Homo sapiens: one gene and its partners. The protein of the gene in region 1 interacts with the protein of each later gene in a pairwise test. Each region holds a gene or a part of one and is shown in the gene's direction. Other genes may lie near its edges. The genes, in order: FARS2, AP1B1 and MAN1C1.

Evidence for each region.
Region 2: the proteins of FARS2 (region 1) and AP1B1 interact in binary tests that used the Homo sapiens proteins (3 or more experiments, as listed by UniProt).
Region 3: the proteins of FARS2 (region 1) and MAN1C1 interact in binary tests that used the Homo sapiens proteins (3 or more experiments, as listed by UniProt).

What each region holds. Positions count from the first base shown.
Region 1 is NC_000006.12:5,768,394-5,772,187, forward strand, and holds the end of FARS2 (phenylalanine--tRNA ligase, mitochondrial), read left to right. Parts: intron 1-2,897; coding exon 2,898-3,036; 3' UTR 3,037-3,190; downstream 3,191-3,794. UniProt on the Homo sapiens protein: Is responsible for the charging of tRNA(Phe) with phenylalanine in mitochondrial translation.
Region 2 is NC_000022.11:29,350,571-29,354,070, reverse strand, and holds part of AP1B1 (AP-1 complex subunit beta-1), read left to right. Parts: intron 1-2,245; coding exon 2,246-2,366; intron 2,367-2,804; coding exon 2,805-2,900; intron 2,901-3,500. UniProt on the Homo sapiens protein: Subunit of clathrin-associated adaptor protein complex 1 that plays a role in protein sorting in the late-Golgi/trans-Golgi network (TGN) and/or endosomes.
Region 3 is NC_000001.11:25,777,240-25,780,962, forward strand, and holds part of MAN1C1 (mannosyl-oligosaccharide 1,2-alpha-mannosidase IC), read left to right. Parts: intron 1-865; coding exon 866-1,085; intron 1,086-3,700; coding exon 3,701-3,723. UniProt on the Homo sapiens protein: Involved in the maturation of Asn-linked oligosaccharides. Trim alpha-1,2-linked mannose residues from Man(9)GlcNAc(2) to produce first Man(8)GlcNAc(2) then Man(6)GlcNAc and a small amount of Man(5)GlcNAc.

The sequences.
Region 1 (3,794 bases):
TCTGAGCACATAGAAATAGGAAAACAGATTTTTCCCCATCCATCTTCAATTGGCAATAACTTTTAGAGGTGCCATATTACCAGCTCTTCTGCTAGGAGGGACCAGAGTGAAACAGTGAAAAAACACAATGTGATAATAATTGCCACAATGATACTTTCACCTCACACCCAATTAGCACTTTATAATTTGCAGAGTCCTGTCAATTTCTAAACAGGCCCTGATTTCTCCATATCTTCTCCAATACTTGTTATTTTCCTTTTGTTTTTAAAATGAGCATCCTAATGGGCCTGAAGTGGTATCTCATGGTGGTTTTGATTTGCATTTCCCTGATGGCTGAAGTTGAACATTTTTTCATGTGCTTGTTGGCCATTTGTTTATCTTTGCAGAAATGTCTATTCAGATCTTTGGTACATTTGTTTTACTATGTTGTTGGCTATTTTATCGTTGAGTTGTAAGAGTTCTTTGTATATTCTAGATACAAATCCCTTATCAGGTATATGACTTGCAAATATCTTCTCCCATTCTGTGTGTTCCTTTTTGACTTTCTTGATTGTATGCCTTGAATTAAAAAAAATGCCTAATTTTGATGAATTCCAAGTTTATCATTTTTTTTAATTTTTTCACCTGTGCTTTTGGTGTCATCTAAGGAGGTTTTGCCTATGCGGTCATGAATATTTACTCATCTGTTTTCTTCTAAGAGTGATAATAGTTTCAGCTCTTATATTGAGATATATGATATATTTTGAGTTAGTTTGTGTGTGTGTGGTGTGAGGTAGGGATTCAGCTTCATTCTTTTGCATGTGGATATCCAGTTGTCTCAGTATCAATTGTTGAAAAGACATTTCCCCCTTGGATAGTCTTGGTGCTCTTGTCAAAAACCAAATAACTGTAAATGGAGCAATTGTAGTTTGAATGGAATGGGTCAGCACTTGGTGGCAGCAGGGGTCTTGGCTATGTAGTTTCATAAGCTCCCACTCCTGGAGAGCCTCTGTTTTCCTCTCAAAGCCAGGTTTTTCTGTCTCGCTGCGTTTTGGTGCCTGAAAGGCTTGGGTGGGCATGGTACCTGGAGTACTGTTGTTCGGAGCACAAAGTGAGGAGAAAAGACCACTCTACTTTGTGGGAGGTCCTTGGGGCAGTTTGGGCAGCAGTGCCTCCCCCAGGAGTCAGGGTCCCCACCCCAGAGGAATGTCCACAGAGCAGAGCCATTGGCCTGAGCTGGACTGAAAAAGAAAGAGCCAGGTGGGGAGAGGATTTGATTTCTCCCTTGGTCTAAAGCAGGCAGCTGACATTGGGTGAGGGAATGGGGCAGGCCTCCATGTGCTATCGGGAATCCCCAGGAGGTCCCTACAGAAAACTTCCACCCCCAGCCCAGCTTGTTTATCACAGCCCTTCAGTGGTAACTTCCTCCTGTGGCTTGATCCAAACGGGGGCTGCATATGTGGCCAAAATGCACATAACCCTGTGAGGCACAGCATAGCAGCTTATCTTCCCTGAAAGTGGAAGGACAAAAGCAGGACAAAGATGACCAAGCCAGGGTGGGAGAGAGGGGAGGAGACACTGGAAGGGGAGGTGAAGGGGCAGACTAGGGAGGCCAGGACCAAGGCAGACTCTCATGCACCAGGCATATTCTGCCCAGCCAAGGGCTCTGGCATTCAGATGAGGGAGAGGGAGAGGAAAGAGGAGAGAATCCAGTGAGACCAATCCATGAAGTGTCGGGAGGACCCTGGAAGCAAAGGCTCTGGACTCAGGTGGCATCAATGGGACTACCAGTTTCCAGTGAATATGTGGGAGTGGCCTAGGTCCAGCTCAATCAGAAGCCCATTTGTTCAAGGCCCTGGTATTACTGAAGGCCCAGCCCTGTCTCACCTGCCAGAAAGCACGTGGCCTCTCCCTGGCTAGGCTAAGGGCTGGTTGACGGCATCATAAAAGGAATCTGCCTGGGAGCCCTCAATTTGTTTCAGTTTCCTCCCCCAAGGCCAAGAAGGGATTGGGTTGCCTCTGTTGTTGTTGCTGCTGCTGCTGCTGCTGCTGCTGCTGGGGGTTGGAAAAGAGGAATTTGTGTGACCAGATCCCCTTATTGTATAGAAGAAGAGAAATGTGAGCATTCAGAGATGGTGAGATGTCAGACACCCAGCCACACAGCCAGTGAGAGACATGTTGGGGACAGGGCCAGGCCTGCCAGTTCATGGCCCAGGGGTCTTTCTCATGAGATCAACTGACCAGTGTGTCTTAGCACCTGCCATGCAAATAGAAGGCCCTACTGCTGTCATCTCCACGTATTCCAGAATTACTCAGCTGTTCTATGCAAGCCAAGTCAACACCAATGTCATAAAGGAGAGACTAAAGTAATTCTCTACACAGCACATACACGGCATATATGGCCTGTATGCTTCCTGGACAGCCAACAGGGGTGCCGAGGGAGTGAGTCCCTCAGCCTTGCCTGGAGCCTTGCTGATACTTCAGTTTGCCTCACAAACACGGTTACCTTCCATGACATGAAGGAGGCACACGCGGGTTGACCCCTGACCCTGTCTGCTTGTTAGAATCACGTCGGGAACCGGGGACAGGCTTAGAAGCCCAGGTCCCACCTCCCACCTGCTGAATCCAAATCTCCAGAGCGTGGCCTGGGAAATCAAATTTGTCAGCTTCCTTCCCAGGGGACTTTGATACATCCACCCCAGTGGAAACCAGCAGCCTCCTTTAGTCAAGCGAATGTTTCCCTGACTGTCACCTTCTCCCCCTGTATAAGATGCAGATTGTTAGCGGTAAATGGTACCTGGATTCCAACCTCAGTTCTCCACTGCAGTTGGGGAGATCTGGCCAGGGCAAGCCACACTGCTCCTTCAGGCACAGCCTTGTTCATCCCGCACTCACCTGTGTTCTCTTCCTCTCTGTAGGACGCACAAGACCAGCCACTGCTACCGCATCACGTACCGCCACATGGAACGGACTCTGTCCCAGAGAGAGGTCAGGCACATCCACCAGGCCTTGCAGGAGGCTGCAGTCCAGCTGTTGGGTGTGGAGGGCAGGTTCTGATGTCACCACTTCACTCAGGCTGCAGCCCTCTTGGGGCTCCAGGATTTGCTGAAAGAGAAAAAGATATGGTTTGTGAACTGGGGCATCAATCATCTTTTGATAAATGGATCAGTTTTAGGACTTTCAGAAAATAAAAGATCGCTCTTGAAAAGCTGTTGACATAGCATTTGTCTTTTATTTGGGGAAAGGAGGAAGGTCTTTTCCTATTCCTTTTAGAAGTGCTTTGCCCACTGGCATTGGTGCTTAGTATGGTTAATTGGTCCCTGGGTTCCATTAAGCACCAGGCATGATTTCTTGCCTGACAGGCTCTTCCACTCAGGTAATGAGTGAAGCCACACAGAGGGACATCAGAAATTCCAGATACAATACAGGAAGCTTTTTGAATCAGCTTCCATTCCTTCCTCCCTTCTCTTCTTTTTCAGTTTTGCAAAGGGCAGGCTTCAAAGAGGGCACTAATGAAATGCCAGGGCTCTCGTCCAATGTGAAGGGAGGTGCGTCTTTCAGCCAGGGCAGGATATCTATTTGCTTTTCATAAACCCATGGCTTGGAGTCAGGCCTCTGGCCCCAGGACTTGGGCTTAGCTGCCTTCTGCCCCACTGGAGAGGAAGGAAAGGGGCGAGAGCTGCCCCAGAGTCTTGGAGGCACACAGAGGGGCCAGGTCCTCAAACTCCCTTCAAGTTTTCCCAGCAGGCAGCCTCCACTTCCAGAAGGCGACCTTTAGGGAAGAATATGGGGCTTTGATGTTCCCCCCTTTCCAT
Region 2 (3,500 bases), on another chromosome or scaffold:
TGGCTGAGCAGTGAGCTGCTGCTCCCAGGGCACGTGGTATGGTAGTGGGGGGTAGGCGAGAGCAGAAAAACCATTGAGCAGTGCTGGATCGGAGGGGTTCATGGCATGATCCCCTTCTTCCTCTGAAGTGGCTCTGAGTGGCAGAGCCCTGCAGCTCTGGGGAGGGGGATTGACCTTGAGTTCTCCTCACAGCTTTTGGTCAAATGGCTCAGTCAGCAGTGGGGACTTGACAGTAGCAACCATTGATCATTCGTGGGGACTTGACAGTAGCAACCATTGATCATTCGTATGTTACAGCAGGCCCTGTGGCTGGGAGTGGGGCTACACAGAGAACTGGGGCCTCATTAGTCATTTTCTCTTGGAAGACAGCACATCCTCCTGGTTGTAGCTTCAGTCTGGGTCTTAGTACTCTCCCGGGGGACCCAGAGATATTGGTCGAATTGGGTTATTAGGGAGGTAAATATGGGAAAGCCTTCTGAGTTCCTAAACCAAGGGATGAAACTAGGGCTTCCTGGTTGCAGTGTGGGTCTTTATACGCCAGTGCCCTTGGGTCACGGATTTAATGCGGCGTAGTGACTAGTAGAGCAGATCAGCGTGCAGGATTCCCTGTGCTATATTTAACATAGTAAATCTCTTAAGAATTTGTCCACGTCACTGAGACATGCCCTGCCCTGGTCCTGAGATGTGGCTGGGCAGCTTTTGCCAAGTCCTAATCGCAGAAATATCTTCCTGCTACCCAGCTCGGGGTCTTGCCTCTCCCATGGGGCACGACAAAGGCTCCTTGCTTGGCCAGGACCTCCCCGCAGTGTGCACAGCAGCACAGAGTACCCAGTTTTCTCCTTTCTCTCTGTCCTGTCTTCTCCCTTCCTCACCATCTGTCCTCGTATCTTTTCCTTCCTCCTCTCTGTTCTGGAAGGGCATAGGAGTAGGAGTCAGAGGCAGAGGATTCTCGCCCCACTCTCGTCTTTACTGACATTAGCCATGTGACCTAGTACCAGCCTCTCACCCTCTCTGAAGTTTCCTTGTTCAGGAAAAATGTGGTGGGTGATACTCGCGGAAGGCAGAAGGATGTTGCCTTTGAGGGAGGAACAATGACACATGTGAAAGGGCTCAGCTAGTGACAGCTCCTGCCTAGCGGTGCCTTCTCTGAGGCAGGCATCGATCATGCTGGATGCTTCTCGTCTCACTCTCACAGCAGGCCGATTAGGTCGGTGTCCATGTTGGGGTCCCAAGACCACCCTCATGCTCAGGTTTCACTAGCAGTACTCACAGGACTCAGCATATATTTTTTAAATATATATATTTTTTGAGACAGGGTCTCACTCTGTTGCCGAGGCTCGTCTTGAACTCCTGGACTCAAGCAATCCTCCTGCCCCAGCCTCCCAAAGTGTTGGGATGACAGGCATGAGCTGCTGTGCCCAGCCAGGACTCAGCATATAGCTATACCCACAGCAAAGATCTATCAGCAGCAGAGCAGGGCTGCCCGGCTGGGTCATAGGGGAGAAGGACACAGGTGGAGTCTGGAGGGTTCCATGAGAGGCTTCCTTGTACCTCCTCCTTCCCATGGGGAGTCATACAGAGCACACTCCTCCCCCAACAAAATGCAGCAACATGTATGTAATGTTTCTGCCCAGGAAAGCCTATTTGAGACTTCGGCACCCAAGTTTGTTATTGGGGGCACCTACACAAATTCCATATTCCCAGTAGGGAAGCATGTGTTCAGCATAAACTGTATTCTTTGTACAAATGGTCTAGGTACAGTTAAATACCTTTATCATTTAGGGAACAGTGAGAACACTTCAAAATCCAAGTTGCCACGTGCCAGGCCTTCTGAGGCTAGCAGTCCCAGACCTGCAGTAGTAACATGTTTCTGTACAGCGTCATTCCCATTTCATGGGTGAGGAAACAGGCCTGAGGTCACAGGCTGGGACTGGGACTGAGATATGTCTGATTCCCAAGCCCGTCCCATGGGGCCTGCTGCCTCTGGAGAGTGAGTGAGCCGTCTCTCACTGCCCTCCGTCTCCCTTCCGGCGACGTGCTCAGGCACACAGGAGCAGTCACAGCCTTGCTCAGGCCGGTTGCTGGGCCCTCTACCCAGGAGCTTGCAGCCATGGCAGTGACTCTGCCTTCACAGACATCAGGCTCCACCTCAGACCCCAGAAATGTCCCAGCAAATGTGGAGGGCATTTTCTCACAGGGCTTAAGCCTTGTTTTTTGCTCTCCGGGCATCCTGCCCCACCACCAGGCCTGAGATCCTGAAGCATGAGATGAAGGTGTTCTTCGTGAAGTACAACGACCCTATCTACGTGAAGCTGGAGAAGCTGGACATCATGATCCGCCTGGCCTCTCAGGCCAACATCGCCCAGGTCAGCTGCGTGTGATGGTCAGGACACGGGCTCAGTGTGGGACCATTCCACCACCACCAGACTGTAGGCTCTGGCCCAGGTGACCAGTCTCACCATTAACGGTTTATCTCATGAAGAGTGTTTAGCATGGGACATGGGGCTTCGTAAGCAAGTAAAAGAACTGATGTTTTTATTACTAAAGAATGTTTCTCCATGTTATCACCTGTCATCCCTTACAACGTGGTGTTGGATATGTTAGCTAAATCAACCCCAAACAAGGTTGTCCAGGCCTTCTTTCCTTTTCAGGCACCTGCCAGCTCTCTCCCTTGGGCCTTCTACCTGGAGCAGGAGGCAGAATCCCATTCTCCTAGGGAGTCTGTGTATATTCACTGCCCAGGAGTGTTCCAGCAGATTGCCCCATCAGGTGCCCCAGCCCCATCTTTTCTGTTTGGGCCACAGGTGTTGGCAGAGCTGAAAGAGTACGCAACAGAAGTGGATGTGGACTTTGTACGGAAGGCTGTGCGTGCTATTGGCCGCTGCGCCATCAAGGTGGAGGTGAGGCTCTGGGACTCTGTCCTTGGCTGGAGAAGGAAAAGGGGGCTGAAACCGGGAAACCAGTCTGATTCAAGCAGAATCTGCCAGCTTGCTTGTGGTCTGGGAAGGCCTGAGGCTCATCACTGGAGCCCCCATGGCAAGCATTGTGCAGATCTGGTGGGGTTCCTTCTCACTCTATAGTATCCTTTAGGCCTTCGAGTTGCTGCCGATCAAATTAACCCATCATAATCATGGTTCTCCTGCAGCATTTGTTAAGATGCTGGGGCAGCCACAAGTTAATGGACTTAGCATTCACTTCACAGAGCTCTGGGGTAAGGGCCCTGCCTGTTGAACACTTCTTGGCAAATATTGTCATCATTCAGCTGCCCACGTGCCTCTGTGTCCCAGCGTCCCAGGGCCACTCTAGACTCCTGTGTCCTGGCATTTTATCCCCGTCCTTTCTCTGTCTGTGGAGATGTTCCTCGACCACTAAGCCAGATTCTCCTTAAATGGGTCCACTGGTGGCTACAGTGTCCTAGGATAGGTGGTCGCCCCCGACCTATCCCCTTGAGGCGTGCTCACCCTGGAGCCTATGATGCCGTCCTGAGAAATCTCCTTCAG
Region 3 (3,723 bases), on another chromosome or scaffold:
GAAGGGCCCCAGAGGACCCCAGCCATGGGCCAGGCCCCACCAGCCCATGGAGTCTGGCCTCGAGACTGTGTGAGCAGCTTCCTCCCTCCCCTTGGTCCCCAGGGCTCCTGGGGTGAGAGCAGTCTGACCCCCTCACGCCCCCGACATCCCAGAGTCTTTACAACAGCATCACCTCCCTTCCCACCAAAAGGCATGGCCATCAGGTAGTGGAAGAAGCAGAGCTCTGGACATTGTGGGGTCTTGTTTCTAGGCTGGTGTGGCTGGGTGGCCTGGGACAAGCTGCCACACCTCCCATTTGTCTGTGTAGGGCGCGGCAGCCCAGGTGCCTGGCTTGCTGTAGGCATTAAATGAGGAAACGTGTGACAAGATACTCCTAGAGAACAGCTCTTAATTTTCTGCAGGTTCTTTTTGAGAAACTGGTAAGAATAGATGGACACTCTTCCCATAAAGATGCACATCCACCAGAAAGTGTTGGGTACAGTTTTAAGGGCCTGGACCCCTGAAGCCCATCCACAGGCCAGCTGGGCTTCTGGTTAAGATCAAACAGAGGACATAATGGAGGAGGAGGATCACCTTAAAATATTTTTTAACGTTTTTTAAAACATGGAAGATTTTAAAGGCTGTGTAAGAGACTTGCCCTGGGGAGCTGCCCTGTGTCTGAGCCTCCCAGCGAATAGCAGCCCCTCCTGTGCCCTGGCAGGCATCTTGACCAGCAGAGATCAATGGGCCTCCTTTGCCTGGGATGGAGGGCTTGGCAGAGCTGCCCTTGCTACTGTCTCCAAAATGTTCATTTTCCATCCTTTCCCCCCCTTCTCTGTGCCCTCCCACGCCCCTTCTCCCTGCCCAATCCCCACCTTGCTCCCAGGCGATAGAGACCTACTTGCTGAATGTCTCTCCCGGGGGGCTGACCTACATTGCCGAGTGGCGAGGGGGGATTCTGGACCACAAGATGGGGCACCTGGCCTGTTTCTCCGGGGGCATGATCGCCCTTGGCGCCGAGGATGCCAAGGAAGAAAAGAGGGCCCACTACCGAGAGCTCGCAGCCCAGATCACCAAGACGTGTCACGAGTCATACGCCCGCTCAGGTAACCCTGCAAGGGGAAGGGGCAGCAGGAGAGACTGAGGCTAGACACCAGGAAGAACTGGAAAGACCGGCAGCAGTGAGCGAAGGGAGCACATGGCCTTAGGGAAGCCTCCCCTTGGAAGTTAAGTAGAATTTGAGAGAGGTACTCTCCAGGCTCCGAGACCATACCCTGAATGAAAGGGAAACTAGTACAGACACAGGAAGCGCTTTGCATGTACCTGGTACTCTTCCGCACTTGACACAACATCACTGAACCTCACCACACAGATGAGGAAACTGAGGCTCAGAGATTACTTGGCCAAGGTCCCTTGAGAGGGGCACAGAGTAAAGGATCCTCCAGCCCCGGAGGCAGAAACGGCGGCTTCCTGAGCCCGGCACATGTCCCACCCTGAGTCTCCTACTTTCAAATGTGCCTCTGCCTTTCCCCCGGCACCCTCCTTAGAGGGGGTTTCACCGCCTCCTGCTCCCACCTGTTTAGTCGCCCTCTTTGACCCATGATCACCGGAAAGCCTGAGAGCTTGGTCCTCCCCACCCACCACTCACCACTGAATTGTCCGATGCTAGAATCAGAGGTCACATTTGAGAGCCTGAGCCTGGCTCCTCATTCTACACAGAGAAGTGGAGTCAGCCCAGAGAGGGGAAGTGACTTAGCCAAAGTCACACTGCACATGAGGAATTGATCCTGGGCTGGAACCCAGGCCTTCTGATGCCTGGTTCCACCCCGTGCGCAAACTGCACCCCTCAGAAAAATCCCCAGCCCCCGTGTGGTCCCAGGAGACGCCCACCGCTCTGAGTGGTAATCCCAGTGTTGGTTGGAGGGGACGACCCAAGATTTGCAGTAAAAATCCCAGGCTCAAGCAGCGCTTGACAAAATGACTGTTTTCTGATGGCCAGGAGCCGCTACACCATTTGAAAAGATTAGAGAGGCCAGATGGGCAGCCTCTGTTTTCTTATCTGTTCGATGGGAATCATGACACAGGTCTCAGAGTGAGGCACAGGGTCCCATGAGAAAGTACCTTGGCAGCCACCTTTGGCCAGCAGCACTGCAGGCACTTGCTGACCGCCCATCATGATGTGTCTGTGCCCGCCCCAGCTGAATGGGGTCTCCTGGAGCTGTTTCCAGGAAGTCAGAGATTCGCAATGGGTCTTTAAAACTGGTTGTCCATTCTCTTCAAAGAGCTTGCTCTGCCAGGGCCATAAACAAATAAGAAATCTCAGGACTAATAAAAGGCTCGCTATTTGTCTGAGACAATCAGCCCAGACCATAAAAGACAGCCGCTTAATAAAGCATATTGTTCTAGCCAGCCTCGGCTTGTCCTGTGGACGCCTGTAGCAGTGGCTCCTGCCTTCACCCCACTAGCGACTTGGCAAAATGACTGTTTTCTGATGGCCAGGAGCCGCTACACCATTTGAAAAGGTTAGAGAGGCTAGGGTCTAGCTAATTCCTCTTCCCTGAAGCCCTCCATGGAAGAGCAGGAAGTCCTGCAAACCTCTAACCCCTGCCTCTAAAGTAAAAGCAACCTAGGGCCTCTCAGGGTTTTGAACCCTGGTAGTAGGGAAGAGGGCTCACATTAGGAATGGAGCTGGGGACTTGGGTGACCTGGACAGGAGGGACAGGCATTAAAGGGAGAAGGATCTGGCCCTCATACCCTACATGTTGGGCCTATGAGGGTTAGACCCAGGAGGGAAAGAGCACCGCCCTAGGAGAGGCATCAGACACATCCAGGGTCAAGTCCCAACTCAGCCACAACTCGCTGTGTTACCTTGGGCAAATTACTTAGCCTCTCTGATCCTCAGTTTCCACATGCGTGAGAGGGATAGTAGCAATTACCTTACTAAAGAAACATTTTTTAAGGATAGAAATAGTGTATTAAAGCACCCAGCACGGCCTTTGAAATCATAAATAGTGGCTACAGAGGTGGTTATAATTATGGCCATATGACAAGAATGACAGCAAATTGCCTCAAAACCAAACAGTGACAATGACAGAACCCAGGCTCCCTCAGGCCCTCCTTCCTCAGCTCCCTCTGTGGGAGTAGGTGCATTCCTGGGCAATCTTCCCTCCATCTCTACCTCAGCTGTTCCCAAACTCTCGAAGTTTGTTCTGGGAGGTGTTAAAAGCAGTTTTCTAAGACAAAGGGTCCCAAGGAGAAGCCTCATTTCACATTAGCATATTAAAGGATCTGATAAATCCTGCAGATGGGAGACTTATTTTGTTTAACCCTCGGTTCCCCAGATGTGTTGAAACCCGAAACCCTCTTGGCTGAGGTCTGGCTAACCTCTTGCAGAGCTATTGCCTCAAAGTACACAGTTGTGGAACCCCGCCCAAACCTTCACCTACCCAGACTGCTGAGTAGCTCATTTGGACTCTCAGAGTCCAAAGCTGCTCACATTTCCAGTCCCCGAGGGTCTTGTTCTGTCCAGCCCAGGCCAAGAGGGAAGCTGTGCATCTGCCCGGTGCAGCCTTACACAGCAGTCCAGGCAGGGGCACCCCACACCCACACACACCTGACATCACCCTGGCCGCGGGTTCAAGGCAACTGACATCTCTCCTGGATCCCGAAAAGCAGGAGGTGGGAGGTCTGACCTGGGCCCTCTGCTTGGCTGTTTCCCCAGACACCAAACTTGGGCCTGAGGCC